Linked DNA regions of Homo sapiens: region 1 is linked to region 2. The links come from fine-mapping of genetic effects on plasma protein levels. A gene starts in region 2. The other region holds a variant in brackets. All regions are shown on one strand. Distances are between the middles of the regions. Region 1 overlaps NTN1 (netrin 1). Region 2 holds the start of NTN1 (netrin 1).

Evidence for each region. PIP is the posterior inclusion probability: the model's chance that the variant is causal. Sun 2018 read protein levels with aptamers (SomaScan).
Region 1: its variant is fine-mapped to the plasma level of the NTN1 protein (Sun 2018, PIP 0.95).

Annotation. Positions count from the first base shown.
Region 1 is chr17:9,086,120-9,094,119 of GRCh38, forward strand. The region is part of intron 2 of NTN1 (netrin 1); the gene reads left to right. Among named protein-coding and RNA genes, the nearest start is that of NTN1, 69 kb to the left of the region's middle. RefSeq lists enhancers at 1,537-2,038, 2,039-2,538. The variant T/C (reference allele first, on the strand shown) is at 3,697.
Region 2 is chr17:9,016,565-9,025,379 of GRCh38, forward strand. It overlaps NTN1 (netrin 1), which reads left to right and starts at 4,946. Exons shown (of 7, transcript NM_004822.3): 1 at 4,946-5,021; 2 at 5,747-6,827. The coding sequence starts at 5,810. RefSeq lists enhancers at 493-542, 4,344-4,887 and silencers at 4,308-4,357, 4,408-5,197.

The DNA of each region.
Region 1 (8,000 bases), 69 kb after region 2:
CATTCTTTTTATGAGGGGTTTTCTTGTTGATTGTAGCAAGTGGAAGTAGGTGTAGGGAGATAAGTTGTTATGGTGTCTTCAAAAATAAAAACTAACAAATAAGCCGAGTGCAGTGGTCCTTGCCTGTTGTCCCAGCTGCTGGGGAGCCTGAGGCAGGAGGATTACTTGAGCCCAGGAGTTCGAGTCCAGCAGTTTGGGTAACATAGTGAGACCCTCATCTCTAAAAATAAAAATAAAACAAACAAACATTGAGATCATTCGGTGGGTATTTCTGAAGCCTCTGTCTCATGCTAGTTTGAATGCTAAATGATTGAAATACAGTGGAGAGAACCATAGGGTTCCTGACCTCAAGGCACTCACTCTAGAGGGGAATGTACACCAGCAATTACAATACAGGGCTGTGAGAGGTTAGAACGGGTGCTATGGAAGCAGGAGGAAGAGGTACCAGAGCCACTTGCGGGGCAGGATCAGGGAACGCTTCCTGGAGGAAATGAAATTATCACCAAACAGATCATCACTGTGACCACCTACCTTCATGATCACCATCATCACCATTGATGTCATCATCATCATGCTCACTGTCATCAATATCACTATCTCCTTTACCATCATTGCCATCATCATGCTGTCATCATGACTGTCCTGTCATCTTCACTGTCCTCATTACCATCACCACCTGCACCATCACCATCATCACCATCATCGTTGCTGTCATCATCACCATTATTGTCACCATCATCATCACTTCCCACCTCCTTCTCAATATCACCATCAGCTTCACCATCACCATCAGCATCAGCACCGTTGTCATCAGTACCACCACTAGCATCATGGCAGCTAGCATGCTTGACCACCTTCTGTGTGCCTGGCACCATGCAAAGCTCTTTGCACACATTGTCTCATTTAATTTCCACCGTGACCCTATGAAGCCAAGTTGTTATTCTCACTTTAGAGGTGAAGAAAATGAGGATCCTAAAGGTTACACAGTTTGACCAAGGTCACAGAGTGAGTTTCTCAGTGTTAGACTCAGGATTCAAGTTCAGGCTACCTGTTGTGGAACCTTAGTTTGCCAACCACCCTAGAAGGATGAGTGGGAGGTGGCTAGGTGGGGTGGGGTCTGACAAGGAGCCAGGAGCATTCTGGGGAGAGGGAGATGCAGGCACAGGGCCACAGAGAGACAGAGAGCTGGGGGCATTCGAGACCCAAAGAGGCTGTGTGGCCAGAGTGCTGAGTGTAAGAGGTGAGAGATGAAGCTTGAGTGTAGGGCAAGGTCTGATCCTGCAAGCCCTGATTGGCGTTTTCTAGTTTTGGACTTCGTCTTGATGACAACAGGAAGACCGTATTGAAAGGTTTTAAGTGGGAGGGGACCGTGATTGGCTTGTGCTGTAGGAAGATCACTCTGGTCACCCAGTGGGCAGTGGAGCTGAGAAGGGGGAGACTGAGGCAGGGAGACATCATTTGGTGTAGGAGTTTGAAGCATTCATTGCTCCCACATACCAGAGTCCTGGGATCCTTAGACATCCTCAGAGCTCCCTCCAGGTGCTCTTCTCCACAATTACCCAGAGGATTGAATCAAGCTGAGAGTTCTCAGCTCTCTTTTCTCGAGACAGCTGCTCATCCTTTGTTTGGAACCCTGGGCCTGTGCCGATTTGCCCAGTAGCTTTCACGAACGGCTTTCACATAAAGCCAGACTTGTGCTTTCTAAACAGTTGACCCTGTGTGAGGGCCGTGACCTTGCAGAATACAAAACAGGAGAGGTTAGATCTAAGTCCTCCACTGAGTGCTCCTGGGGCATCCTGCCCCCAGGGAGGCTGTGGTCTACCCAAGAGCAGATGTAGAAACCCCAATTCGACCAGGAGGCTGAATGGAGCCACTTTGTCCCATGCTCCCCACTGCTGTCCTTCCTCCCCAGAGGCAGGAACGAGGCTGCCTCATCCAGAGCTGAGACGCATACTGCTGTGCTGGAAGGAGAAGGCCAGAACCCCAGCTCACCAAGCTGGCATTGCTGGTGCACGAGCCACCCAGTGGGGACAGGCAGGGGGCAGGAGGCGGGAGACAGGGGACCAGCTCCCGACGGCCGTGCCGAGGGACTTCTGTGGGTGCCCAGTGGGTGTCCATCTGCAAGTTGGCTTCAAGGGTCTTTTGGCCACCTCTTCCATGACTTGGAATTTCTTATTGTCCTGCTCTTAAAGATTTTGAGGATCCCTAGTAAGTGGGGATCAGGAGTTCTGGGTTCTGGGTGTGGCTTTATTACCAGCTCACTGGGTAGGGTTGGGCCAGTCCTTTCCCCTCTCTGGGCTTCAGACTCCTTCTTATGAAACAAGGGATTGGCCTTAGGTGTCCTCTGAGGTCCCTCCAAAGCAAGCCGCTCTATGTTCTCTGGAGCTCCTAGCACCCCAATGACACACACCAAATAGTTGCCACAGACGGATGGGTGGATGGGCTCTGAGTCCCACCTCCACCCGCTCCTGGGTGGGTTGTTCATTTGAGGACTGAGACCCCAGGGCAGACCCGGAAGCCTGGAACACGTTCACATGCCACAGATGGAGGATTTTTCCGCTTCAATTATCTTCTTTGCAGGTTTTGGGTTTTCAGACAGGGCTGGCAGCTTGACTGAGCCACAGTAACCATTTCCGAGCTGGCTGGAAGCATGCATGGAGGACCTCAGGGTTCAATCTGTTGTTCTCCTTCCAGTATCAAGAGTCTGAACGATTCCAAATACGGAGAAACAACCTCTCTCCGGGTTCCTTGTGGCCAGCCATCACGAAACCCTCGCACCTGTTCACCCTGCAAAGCGTGATATGTCTGAACTATTTAAACGGTTGGGTTTACTGATTAATTTCTCCTCAGCCTCATGCCTGGATCCTGGGTGTCCGCCATCGGAGTGCTGGTGACTGTTGTGGAGGCAGGACCCCCAGCTTAGGGTACAGAGTCTCCTGTGTTGTGGAGAGCTGAGAAGACCAGGTATGAGGAGCCTCATTTGTGCTCTAGCTTTATTATTAAGTTAAGGGTGCCAGGCGCGGTGGCTCACGCCTGTAATCCCAGCACTTTGGGAGGCCGAGACTGGTGGATCACCCGAGTTCAGGAGTTCGAGACCAGACTGACCACCATGGTGAAACCCCGTCTCTACTAAAAATACAAAAAAGTTAGCCAGGTGTGGTGGCGGGCACTTGTAGTCCCAGCTACTCGGGAGGCTGAGACAGGAGAATCGCTTGAACCCGGGAGGCGGAGGTTGCAGTGAGCCGAGATTGTGCCACTGTACTCTAGCCTGGGCGGCAGAGCAAGATTCCATCTAAAAAAAAAAAAAAAATTAAGGACATATGTTTTGGCTATTCTCCAATTTCTACTTTTTATACCTTGTTAAACACATTAGAGCAATGTCCTAGGTGACAATTTCTTGTTGATAACGCACAAGTTTTGCCAGAAGACTGTCTCAGATGTTCCCTGTTCTCTACCCCTGGTGGGTTTTTCACTGCTGGGTGGAACCTAAATGTTCATTGTCCCTTCTGAGAACACCTGCTGTGTGCTTCCCCTGCCTGCAAAAACCACCTTGAACGTGATGGGTGCTTTCGGACTCTCAGGGCCCTTCTACCTCTGCTCATCCCAAACACCACGGCACTGGAGACAAAGCTTTTCGTTCGCAGCCGCAGCCGCTTGCCTGTGATCATCTTTTTCCAGTTGGGGGTTTCATCTCTC[T/C]TTTACAACCTGGCTCCTGCTACCGACCTCCTGCAGTTTCTGGCGGGGACTTGTTAGAGTGGCCAAACAAACTTTTTTTTTTAAACACCAACAAGCTATCTGGACACAGTAGGGTAGTTACTAAGCAAAATTATCACTGCTCCCTTCTATGCCCCAGAAGTCCTGAAGCCCACAGCCTGTCTATCCTTTTGAGGCCAAAGGGAGAGATGGGCATTTGAGGACATGGTGGGAAAGGCTGAGGCTGGAGGACGGGCTGTGGGTATGTGAGTGGGGAATGGTGTTGACGCCTGTCTCCTCCCAACTTATGGCATTGATCATCTTTTGGTAGGAGCCGGGCTACCAAACTCATCTTTTTTTTTTTCTTTTTCTTTTTTTTTTTGAGATGGAGTCTCACTCTGTCACCAGGCTGGAGTGCAGTGGCATGATCTCAGCTCACTGCAACCTCTGCCTCCTGGATTCAAGCGATTGTCTTGCCTCAGCCTCCCAAGTAGCTGGGACTACAGGCATGCACCACCATGCCTGGCTAATTTTTGTATTTTTAGTAGAAATGGGGTTTCACCATGTTGGCCAGAACAGTCTCGATCTCTTGACCTCATGATCCGCCTGCCTCGGCCTCCCAGAGTGCTGGGATTACAGGTGTGAGCCACCGCGCCTGGCCTAACTCCTCATCTTTCTTACTTACCAAAGCAGGTAAGGACTCTCTGTGACTCACTAAGCAAGAAAGTCATGGATGTTTCTGGTCATTTAGGAGCAGAAAGAGGGGGATACAGATGCCGGTTTATAAAGGCTGAGAGTGCAGGAGGCAGCCACTCAGGAGACCTTGCTAAGGCTGGCTTCCCGCTGCTTGTCTTCTCTGGCCATTTCTCTGCTTGGGTACAGAAACCAGGCCAAGTGCCTGGGGAACATTTAGCTTTTTGTTGTGAGAAGGGAAGAATTAGAAAGTCAAATGCTCCTATGGACTGGGAGCCAAGAGAAGGGGGCAGGGAGGCTGGCAGGGCCTTGAGGAGGCTTGGCCACTCTGAGGGTGGGTGCCCATCTAAGGCAAGCCTGGAGCTGGGTGGGCAAGAGCCGGGCGGCCCCGCTCCTCCTTTCCATGTCCTCCCCTCCACCGGGACCCTCAGCCTGGGCCCAGCAGGGAAACCCAGGGCGTGTGAAGCCGACCAAAGGGAGATGGATTGAAAAACAGCCAGCTGAGGAGGGCACTGGCTGCCAGGCGGAGGACTCGGCAGTGCCAAGTGCAAGGTTTCTGGAGAGCTGCTTATGTCTCACTGCCTACAATAACACCTCATTTATTTGGCATTATCAGAGAATGAGCTGTTTCCCTTAAGTGACTTTTCCTCCCCCAAACTTTAAAAATGGAAACATTTTATGTGTCAAACTTTTTATTATTATTTAATTGTGGTAAAATATACATAACATAAAATGTACCATCTAAACCATTTTTCTCTATGTTTTAGAGACAGGGTCTCGCCCTCTCCCCCAGACTGGAGTGTAGTGGTAGGATCATAGCTCACTGCAGCCTCAAAACTCCTAGGTTCAAGGGATCCTTCTGCTTCAGCCTCCCCAGTAGCTGGAACTACAGGCTCAAGCCACAGTGCCTGACCAAAGTTAAACTGGATCCTACGTTTAACCCCCCGCCTTTTTTTTTTTTTTTTGAGATGGAGTTTCTCTCTTATTGCCCAGGCTGGAGTGCAATGGCACGATCTCGGCTCACTGCAACATTTGCCTCACGGGTTCGAGTGATTCTCCTGCCTCTGCCTCCTGAGTAGCTGGGATTACAGGCATGTGCCACCACGCCCGGCTGATTTTGTATTTTTAGTAGAGACGGGGTTTCTCCATGTTGGTCAGGCTGGTCTCGAACTCCCGACCTCAGGTGATCTGCCTGCCTCGGCCTCCCAGAGTGCTGGGATTACAAGCGTGAGCCACCGTGTCCGGCCCGTTTAGCCACTTTTATGTGTACAGTTCAGTGGCATGAAGTACATTCACCATCATCACCATCCGTCTCCAGAACTTTTTCAACTTCCTAAATTGAAACTCTATACCCCTGAAACAACTTCTTCCTGCCCCAGACTCTGGAAACCTCTAATCTACTTTGTCTCTAGGAATCTGACTACTCTAGCTACCTCATATCAGTGGAATCATACAGTAGTTGTCCTTCGGTGACTCCCGGGTTCAAGCGATTCTCCTGCCTCAGCCTCCTGAGTACCTGGATTACAGGCATGCACCACCACGTCCGGCTAATTTTTGTATTTTTAGTAGAGACGGGGTTTCACCATGTTGGCCAGGCTGGTCTCAAACTCCCGACCTCAAGTGATCCTCCTGCCTCGGCCTCCCAAAGTGCTGAGATTACAGGTGTGAGCCACCACACCTGGCGACTGGCTTATTTCATTTAGTATCATGTCACCATGGTTCACCCAAGTTGTGTAAATGTGTCAGAATCTCCTTCCTTTTTAAGACTGAGTAATACTCCATTGTATGGAGAGGCCACATTTTCTTTTCTTCTCTTTTTTTTTTTTTTTTTTTTTTTGAGACGGGGTCTCACTCCATCTGCAACCTCTCCCTCCCAGATTCAAGCGATTCTCATGTCTCAGCCTCCCGAGTAGCTGGTATTATAGGCGCAAACCACCATGCCTGGGTAATTTTTGTATTTTTTTAGTAGAGACAGGGTTTCATGATGTTGGCCAGGCTGGTCTCAAGCTCCTGGCATCCAGTGATCCACCAGCTTTGGCCTCCCAAAATGTTGGGATTACAGGTGTGAGCCATGGCGCCCAGCCTGGATAGGTCAAAATTTTTTTTGAGACAGGGTATCACTCTGTGGCCCAGGCTGGAGTGCAGTGGTGCGATGTCAGCTCATTGCAACCTTTGTGTCCTGGGTTCAAGTGATTCTCGTGCCTCAGCCACCCATAGCTGGGATTACAGGCGCACACCACTATGTTTGGCTAATTTTTGTATTTTTTTTTTGAGACAGAGTCTCGCTCTGTCGCCCAGGCTGGAGTGCAATGGTGCAATCTCAGCTCACTGCAAGCTCCGCCTCCCAGGTTCACGCCATTCTCCTGCCTCAGCCTCCTGAGTAGCTGGGACTACGGGTGCCCACCACCACGCCCGGCTAATTTTTTGTATTTTTAGTAGAGACGGGGTTTCACTGCGTTAGCCAGGATGGTCTCGATCTCCTGCCCTTGTGATCCGCCCGCCTCGGCCTCCCAAAGTGCTGAGATTACAGGCGTGAGCCACTGCGCCCAGCCAATTTTTGTGTTTTTAGTAGAGATGGGGTTTTGCCATGTTGGCCAGGCCGGTCTTGAACTCCTGGCCTCAAGTGATCTGCCCGTCTCGGCCTCCCAAAGTGTTGCGATTACAGGCGTGAGCCACCATACCGGCCTGATAAACCGCATTTTCTGTATCCATTCATCCATCCATGGACATTTGGATTGCTTCCAGCTATTTGCTATTGTGAATAATACTGCTATGAACATAGGTATTACCCAAGCTTTGTTGAGTAAGCTTAAGTAACAAATAACTTATTAGAAATATTTTTCTTATTCTAAATTTTATTTATTTATTTATTTTAGAGACAAGGTCTCACTCTGTTGCCCAGGCTGGAGTGCAGTGGCACGATCACAGTTCACTGTAGTTTTGACCTACCAGACTCAAGTGATCCATCCACCTCAGTCTCCTGAGTAGTTGAGACCACAGACAAGAGCCTCCACACTTGGCGAATTTTCTTAATTTTGGTAGAGATGGTATCTTGCTATGTTGCCTAGGCTGATGAACTCCTGGGCTCAAGTGGTCCTCCTGCCGCAGCCTCTCAAAGTGTAGGATTACAGGAGTCAGCCATTGTACCTGGTAAATTTTAAAACATTTAGAAAATGTGGACAAGTTGGCTGGGCGCGGTGGCTCACGCCTGTAATCCCAGCACTTTGGGAAGCCGAGGCAGGTGGATCACTTGAGGTCAGGAGTTTGACACCAGCCTGGCCAACATGGTGAAACCCTGTCTCTTCTAAAAATATAAAAATTAGCTGGGCGTGGTGGCGGGCGCCTGTAGTCCCAGCTACTTGGGAGGCTGAGGCAGGAGAATCACTTGAACTTGGGAGGCAGAGGTTGCAGTGAGACGAGATTGTGGCACTGCACTCCAGCCTGGGTGACAGAGCGAGACCCTGTCTCAAAAAAGAAAATGTGGACAAGTTAAAAGAAAAAAATCACTCATTATCCCATTGTCCAGAGAAACTTCTAGTATACATACTATTTACATTTTGTTATATACACTTCTGTTTTACCTTTTAATGCATACAAACATTCAGTTTCTACAA
Region 2 (8,815 bases):
TCCATGTTACTCATTTTTAATTAATTCAAGTTGAAATTGAAGTAGCTACATGTGGTGACTGGCTACCATATTGAACAGCACAGCTCTAGCCCCTGGCCTCTCTGTTTCCTCTTCCATCCTGTCCTGTTTTCCTTCTTTCTTTGGCATTGTCGCCCTGGCCCATCATATCAGCCACCCACTCCCCTTTCCTTCTGTCCCACCTCCTGGAAAACACTCTCAACTTGAGATTAATCCAACTGTCTCTTTCTCTAGGTCTATCCAAAGGCTGCTGGGCGCTGCTGGGGAAGAGGGCATGTGTGTCTCATGGCCTTGCTGGCTGCCATTCTTTCTCATAGATAGTCACAAACTTCAATAGGCCCTTTAATTCTGCCCAGCAAGCATTATCCTCTTCTCTCTAATGACCTCAAGCCTCCAGTGCTCCCAGCTCCTCCCCCATCCTCAGCAGATGGTGTCACTTCCTATTTCATTGAAACAAGAGACACTTGGAGACCACCTGACCACCAGTTTTACAAGCATAGTTTTATCTGTCTTCCACCTCTCTCCTCCTGCTGGCTCCAGTTCCTATCAACATTTAGGCATGGTCAAATAGCCTTATCTTACAAACAACAATAAAAAATCCCAACCTTCCCTCAATCCTATGTCACCTTCCTGCTGTGACCCTCTATCTTTCCTGCCACTTATATTCACACTTTCTTGAAAGTTGTCTACACCTGCTATTTCCACTTTCTCACCTCCCGTTCACTCCACAACCCCAGACAGCCTGGCTTCTGTCCCTACCACTCCCTGCAACCACTAGTCAAGGTCACCAATGACTTCCTTGTAGTTTGATCCAAAGGACTTGTTTCAGATCTTATCTTGACCTTTAAGGCATGTGACTCAACACTGCTCAGCACCCCTCCTTCCTTGCAACGCTCTTACCCATTGGTTTCTATAACACCCGAGTCCCCTGGTTTTCCTCCTCCTCCTCTGGCTACTTAAAAGTTTTCTTGAAACTGCCGCATTCTCCCCCTCCTAGGGTGATCCGTCTGGCTTCACAGGTAAGACAGTGTGCCAGGAACGGTGTTTCCGCCTCTCAACGCATTCCTTGCAGAAACACCTGGTGATTTGCTTTCTCACCCAAAATCTGCACTGTTGCGTTTTGAACTCCAGTTTGCTCTGTGGATCCCGCTGCTTAGAGCCTGACATGCCTTCACGGGTGTGTATTTATCACCGCCACTTTAAGAACTTCTCACGACACTTGGACATCTGTTTTTTTCATTTGTCCCCTCAACAGACAGGCTGCGTTAGGAAAGGACACTGATGAATTAGAAGGGATGGAAGAGGCTGCAGAGTGGTCAGAAAACAATGTCCTATGGGAAATCATTAAGATAACTGGGAACATTTTGCCCAGAAGAGATAAAACTGAGGGATGATAGAGGACTGGTTTCAAGAATCTGAAGAGGCAGAGAACCTTGATCTGGGCTGCTGTGTAGCGTAGGGTTTGGGCCACCTGCAGACTTAACAGAGAGGGGGGTTTGGAATGGACGTAGAGGAGTTCCACCGTATTACAGGAGGTTCTAGACCTCCTGGATACAAGGTGAGTAAGACAGTCCTGCTCACCAGGAACTACTAAAGATGATAAGCGTAGACCTAAGTGACCACAATAAAACTGGAAGGTGACCCCGCTCATCCTCTCCTGAAGACCCCTGGCCTAAGCTCAGCTGGCAATGTAGAAAAGCCACACTCTACCAAGAGCCATTTCAAACTTACTGCCATGCAAGGGCCATCAAAAGCTCTGTGGACATAGGCTGGGCGCGGTGGCTCACTCCTGTAATCCCAGCACTTTGGGAGGCCGAGGCGGGCAGATCACTTGAGGTCAGGAGTTTGAGACCAGTCTGGCCAACATGGTGAAACCCCGTCTCTACTAAAAATACAAAAAAATTAGCCAGGTGTGGTGGTGGGTACCTGTAATCCCAGCTACTTGGGAGGCTGAGGCAGGAGAATCGCTTGAACCCGGGAGGCAGAGGTTGAGAATGCGCCATTGCACTCCAGCCTGGGCAATAGGGCAAGACTCCATCTTAAAAAAAAAAAAAAAAAAAAAGGCTCTGTGGACAGAAACAACATTCAGGAGGAAGGCTTGGAAAGCACTTCTCAATCCAGTCTTGTAGATGCTCCAAAAGGTACCCCAGTCAGCTGAGCACCCCAATTTGCTTCTTTTCCATTCCTCTTTGCTGGAATGTCTTTTCCTGACTTGGGTTTTGATGCGATGCCATCAGCTTACATTCAGGGGGATCACAGAAACTGTCCAACCGAGCTCACTGTTGTGACTGTTTTGGGGATGTTGTCAGGGACGTTTGCTCATTACCCCATACTGTGTTCCCTTTCTGGGCCACGCCCCCACAAGAAATTCCTATCTGATTTTAGTACCAAGAATAGTTGTAATTCCCTTGAGCAGTAGGTCTGTTTTTATCTCATGGACACTGGGAATTGTGTAATGAACATGGTCTCCTCATTTTAGCTGCAGGAAAGCTTAGGGACAAATTTGTGGCCCACTCAGAAGAGGTGTAGAGGTTGGAACTCCAGGGTGCATTGGACCTGTATCCTCCTCTCGACTTTGTCTCCCTTCTTAGCTTTTCTTTGTTCTCTTACTTCATATTTTACTGTGCAAAACTGAGAGCATACAAGCAAAGATAAATAAAAATCACCTGTAATCTCATTATTCCGAGATAACCACTATTAACTGTGTTGTCTTTTTATGCATACTTTTTAAAAAATTAAAATGACATTATACTGTGTGTTTTTAATTTGCTTTTTTCATATTATAATATGTCATGAACATCTTTCCCTGTAATTAAGTGTTCTCTAAATGATTTAAAATTTCTGTATAGATCAAGCGACCTCATACTAACAGCTAACATTTCTATATGCATGTACTATGTGCCTGGTTTTATGCATATTTACATTTGCATACATGAGAAAGCCTATTTATATGTGTTACAGACCTGCAATATGTATGTCTATATCCCATCAGCTATAATATTCAAATGTGTCAACTCACGTGATGCTCACAACCCAGTGGGGTAGAAAGTATTATCTCCCTTGTACAGATGGAGGAAACCAAGGCATAGACTTTCCATAGTCACACAGCAGAGGCAGAATTTGAACCCAGGTACCCTGGCTCCGAAGCGTTTCCTCCTAAGAGCTATGCTGCCTTTCAGTATACCATTGCGATTTCACAGGTCACCATGGTTAACCATTTCATTTATTTCCTTTGACCTCACTTTTAATTTGTTATTGTGTCATATTTTATGTACCCTTGTAAGTTACCTGAAATCCTTTCTGCCACAAGGTGAGGTAAGGCATAAATAAACAGTGCAGAGTGTGGTAAACGGCACAAGAAGGCACAGCTAAATTGCTACCCCGGGGTAAGAAGATGAATCCAGGCTGTCCTGCAATGGAATGGATTTATTTTCTTGAGCTGTGGTGAGCTCCCATCCCTGGAAGAGCTGGCTTGGGTGGCCGTCTCTCTGGGAGGCTGGGGAAGGCCTTCTTCCAAGGAGACGGAGCTGGGCCAGACGAGCCCCGAGGCCCCTTCTTAGATTCTCAGGGTTTATGAAAATGCCAATAAGACAAACTGAGGCACTTAATGGAGCTAATGCAGCAAGGCAGCCCTTGGGCCGGAACCAGGACCTGGGGCTTTTCATCCGGGTCTATTACTGGACCACACATCTACAAGTAACAAATAAACGAGCAGAGATTCCGTTCCAAACTCTCGGCCCAGTGTATTCCTTTCCCAGAGCTCTCTGGCTGCTGTTGCAAGATGACCAAAGGATGCTGTCACTGTCCTCAGTCTTTTTATTGGGGCGATGGAGAATGAGGCAAGGAGGGGCTGGGTGGCCCCGCAGATGCCCCATGACACCATCATTCGGCAAGGTTATGCATTTGACGAATGCCCTGCAGTGGAAGGAGCCCAGGCTTCTCTTCCTGTTTTTGATGTTTACTTGGGGGTTGATCTTGTGCGAGTTTCTTCAGCTCCCGGGACCCTCAGTTTCCTCATCTGCAAAATGGAGTTAATACAACAGCAAAGCTGCTGTGGAGGTCCCATGAGCTATTACAGGGCTTTGCACCCTTAAAAATGCGGTTGAGGAAGTACCGATACGCCTGCCTCAGGGGATCTGGGGAGGGCTGGGCTGTCCCCATGCCTGAGACCAGGCAGGCCCGTCTTGGAGGGGCGGTGGCCAGCGTCCAGGTGCTGCCAGCTTCCTACCCCTTCAGCCTCCTGCCCACCACTGCTCCCTTGGCTAGAACGAAGCCGCGTTCCCGACAGACAGGCTCACGCACGGTGATATCCGTGGGAGTGCGGGCGAGCAGCCCCTCCTCGCCGGACCCCGGGGGCTTCGGGCAAAAATGGAGAGCAGGCAGAGGTCACATCCTCCTCCTCTTCCTCACGCTCCCGGGCTGCGTGCCCACAGGGGCACAGCCCTGTGCGCGGTGCCACCGGGGGCCATCAGGCTGGGTTAGAGGAAGGCCCGACCTCCGCGCAGCAAAGAAAACAAACACAGATGTGTTTGGCTGGGACCGGGAGGGAGAAAGTGGCCCCCTTCCCCCGCCCGCGCGCTCCCCCGGGCGTGAGGCTCTCCGGGCGGCGCGGGGCGCGGGCGAGGCTGACAGTCCCCGGCGGCCCCTCCTCCCCCACGGGGTGCGCGCCTGGCCCGGCCCAGCCCCCTCTCCGGGGTTTCCCCGGGTGCTCTCCTCGCTTTCTCTTTGTCTCTGCTGTTCTTTCTCGGGCTCCCGGGTTCCCACCCGCCTGTGCTCTCCCTCTCGGGCGTCCGGGCCGGTTCCCTTTAACTTTCTTCTTTCCCGGGGTGAAAACTTTGCTCGGAGCTGGCGGCAGCTCGCGGACGTTATTGGCCGGCGCCCCGCCCGGCGGCCCCGCCCCCCGCCCCCGCGCTCCCCTCCGCCCCTCACTCCCAGCGCGAGTGGCGGCGGCGGCGGAGCCTTCGGGGGCGAGCGCGCGTGTGTGTGAGTGCGCGCCGGCCAGCGTGAGTGTGTGTGCGCCCCGGGCGCGGGCAGGGCAGCACTCCGAGCTCGGCGGGAGCGGCGGGAGCCGGGCGGCCGCGTAGTCACTCGGGCGAGAGAGGCGGCGGCGGGGCCGGGACCGGGGCTGGGGCTGGGGCAGCGGCGGCCGCGCCGGGCATGGAGCTGGCAAGCCCGCGCTGAGGCGGGACGCGCCTGCTAGCAGCGAGCGAGAGGCTCTCCGGCGACCGGCGCGCGGGCTCCCCGGAGGGGCCAGGCAAACTTTTCTTTCTCTTTTGCCCCCTCCAGAGGTAAAGTCCCGAACGCGGACTTTCCGGCGGGGACGCGATCGGGGGGCATCTGAGAGGGACCCCGGGCTGCGAGACGAAGGGGCGCGGGCCGTGCAGAGTCGGGGTCCCCCAGCTCTCCTGCGCCCGAAACTTGGGGTGCGAGGGGGGCTGGTCGCGGACGGGGAGACCGGCTCAGGCATGCCCCTCGGGCGGCGTGGGGGCGGCGGTGGCGGGGAAGCAGAGCGTTCTCCCGCCGGGCGGGGAAGAAGGGGCGCGAGCGGTGCGGACTTGGAGGGCCCCGGCTTCGCCGCCCGCGGGACTTTGGGGGAGAGAGGCGGGCAGTCGGCTGCGGGGTGGGTGCCCAGGAAGCCGGGCGTTCTCCCGCATCTCCGCTCGCCACCCCGCCGAGAGCTGGAGGGCGCGGGGCGGGCTGGCTGAGCGCAGCTCCCTTCTCTCCGCAGGCGCCTTCTGCGGCAGGCGGACAGATCCTCGGCGCGGCAGGGCCGGGGCAAGCTGGACGCAGCATGATGCGCGCAGTGTGGGAGGCGCTGGCGGCGCTGGCGGCGGTGGCGTGCCTGGTGGGCGCGGTGCGCGGCGGGCCCGGGCTCAGCATGTTCGCGGGCCAGGCGGCGCAGCCCGATCCCTGCTCGGACGAGAACGGCCACCCGCGCCGCTGCATCCCGGACTTTGTCAATGCGGCCTTCGGCAAGGACGTGCGCGTGTCCAGCACCTGCGGCCGGCCCCCGGCGCGCTACTGCGTGGTGAGCGAGCGCGGCGAGGAGCGGCTGCGCTCGTGCCACCTCTGCAACGCGTCCGACCCCAAGAAGGCGCACCCGCCCGCCTTCCTCACCGACCTCAACAACCCGCACAACCTGACGTGCTGGCAGTCCGAGAACTACCTGCAGTTCCCGCACAACGTCACGCTCACACTGTCCCTCGGCAAGAAGTTCGAAGTGACCTACGTGAGCCTGCAGTTCTGCTCGCCGCGGCCCGAGTCCATGGCCATCTACAAGTCCATGGACTACGGGCGCACGTGGGTGCCCTTCCAGTTCTACTCCACGCAGTGCCGCAAGATGTACAACCGGCCGCACCGCGCGCCCATCACCAAGCAGAACGAGCAGGAGGCCGTGTGCACCGACTCGCACACCGACATGCGCCCGCTCTCGGGCGGCCTCATCGCCTTCAGCACGCTGGACGGGCGGCCCTCGGCGCACGACTTCGACAACTCGCCCGTGCTGCAGGACTGGGTCACGGCCACAGACATCCGCGTGGCCTTCAGCCGCCTGCACACGTTCGGCGACGAGAACGAGGACGACTCGGAGCTGGCGCGCGACTCGTACTTCTACGCGGTGTCCGACCTGCAGGTGGGCGGCCGGTGCAAGTGCAACGGCCACGCGGCCCGCTGCGTGCGCGACCGCGACGACAGCCTGGTGTGCGACTGCAGGCACAACACGGCCGGCCCGGAGTGCGACCGCTGCAAGCCCTTCCACTACGACCGGCCCTGGCAGCGCGCCACAGCCCGCGAAGCCAACGAGTGCGTGGGTGAGTGGGGTGCGGCGGCGGAGCCGGCGGCGGGTGGGGCCGCGGGCGGGAGCTGCTGGGCCTCGCAGCGGCGAGTTCATAGGAGCGCGGGTCGAGGGAACGGCGGGAGGCGCGTTCGCCGATGCCCGGGACCCGGGAGGGCTCAGAGCAGGTCCACTCGCTCGCGTGGCGCTCGTGGTGGACGCCCGAATTTGCGCCCAGTGCTCTCTGCGAAGCCAAGAAGCAGCAGGAGAAATGTTCCCGGGAGGGGGTTTGGCAGAACATTTGCAGATAGGTCTCCGCTAACCCTGGATCCAAACGCAAACATTCATTGCCTTCCCCCTCGTTGGGTTGGACGCTGGGATTCACCTGCACCCACCCCCCTTTCCCAAGGCTGCAGCTGGGCTCGCGGTTGGGGACCCCGGCCCAGTTCCTGGGAAGTTCCAACTCCACACCTACAAATCCCTTGGGAGATGGCAAAGAACTGTTTGTAGTTTGGGGTCAGTTCGGTACCCGACGAGTATCACTCCTGCCCTCCATTTGTCTTTTCATGATTTGAAACTATTTTTGTCTCTCTTTTGAACAGCGTGTTTGTGTTAGCAAAAGAAGAATGATGTGATTTCAATTAATTACTATCTGCTGATTACAACGGAGCGTTCAGTAATTATTTTAAACGAATTCAATTCTGGTCTAAAAAAGTATACCAGATTTTTTTTATTAGCTTCAGGCTTTGGTGAAATTAAACAGTTTTGAATTAACTAAGGGTCCAGCTTCTCACTTTTTAAATAGGGTTTCATTTCCTGAAAGAGAAATCTGACAAAACCGGGTGAATACGGCTGGGTCAGAAATGAAGCTAAAAAAGGATACGTTCTGCTTCTGAATTGGACGACTTTGCTGCTGCAGAAGCTCTCAGAAATCAGTTTCTCCCCATAAAAAGAAAAAAAGGGTGAGGGGAGGTAGCAAGACTACACCTTACTTTTTCAGTATGGGAAGTAAAGCTCCAAAGCCCACATTTATTTGAGCGAAAATTATTTAGTCTGTAAATGTCCCATTTGGTGTGCATCCTTTATGAACGTACAGATTTTTCCTCTCCATCTCCCCATCTCAAACAGCCAGTGTGAGGCTCTTCAATTGCTTTGCCCCTCTTAGGCACATTTCAAAGTTTGCTGGTCCCCACAAACACACGTTTTGAGGTCTGGTTCTGATTAATTGTGTCATGTTGTTGTCGAATAGTTTGTGCCTCATGACTGTGGATGCAGAGTTTTGAGCAAGGGAATGGAAAACATGTCTTGGAGGGCCGGATCGCCGCAGAGGCCCAGTCAGGCGTCCTGGTCTGAAGACGCCGGGCCTCCCGCCTCCTGTTGCAAGGGAGGCCTCCATTTTTACGCTCGTGTCCCGCTCTTGCAGACATAATTGTTTGTCCCCTTTCTTTTAAGGATCAGAACTAGTTTCCAGTCTGAAGACACTTTTCAAGATTTCGCAGAGAGAGAGAGAGTGTAGTTACACTCCGACTTAGTAGTCTTCTAGAATAAAATTCCTTTGATCTGCTCAGTTCCCTCGGAAATGTTGGTTTTTCCCATCTCTTCTTTTCCCCCTCCTTCCTCTTTTCTTTTCTTCCCTTTGTGCGTAAAAGCCCTTTATTGACATTTAAAGGGATTCCCAGGGTTTTGCTATCAGTTTTAGTTTGTATGTGCATATGAAAGATAACTTTGTCTTGTCACCATCAGGGTCTAATTGGACAAATGCAAGTGAATACATTTAGGCGAATAAACTTGATGTGGTGGTGAAATTTCTCTGGCTTGAAGATTTGCCTTAGCGTTGGTATTGTTCAGATTCACCACCCACCCCCAGGTCTTGCCGTCAGTTTGGATGTGGACACGTAACCTGCGTTTGTTATAATGATGGTCATGCACTTGAAATAATCTCTATAGTTTGGGATTTTGTCTCTTGACCAAAGCACTAACTATGCACACAAATTGGATTGACCTTTTTTTTTATTGGCTAAATTG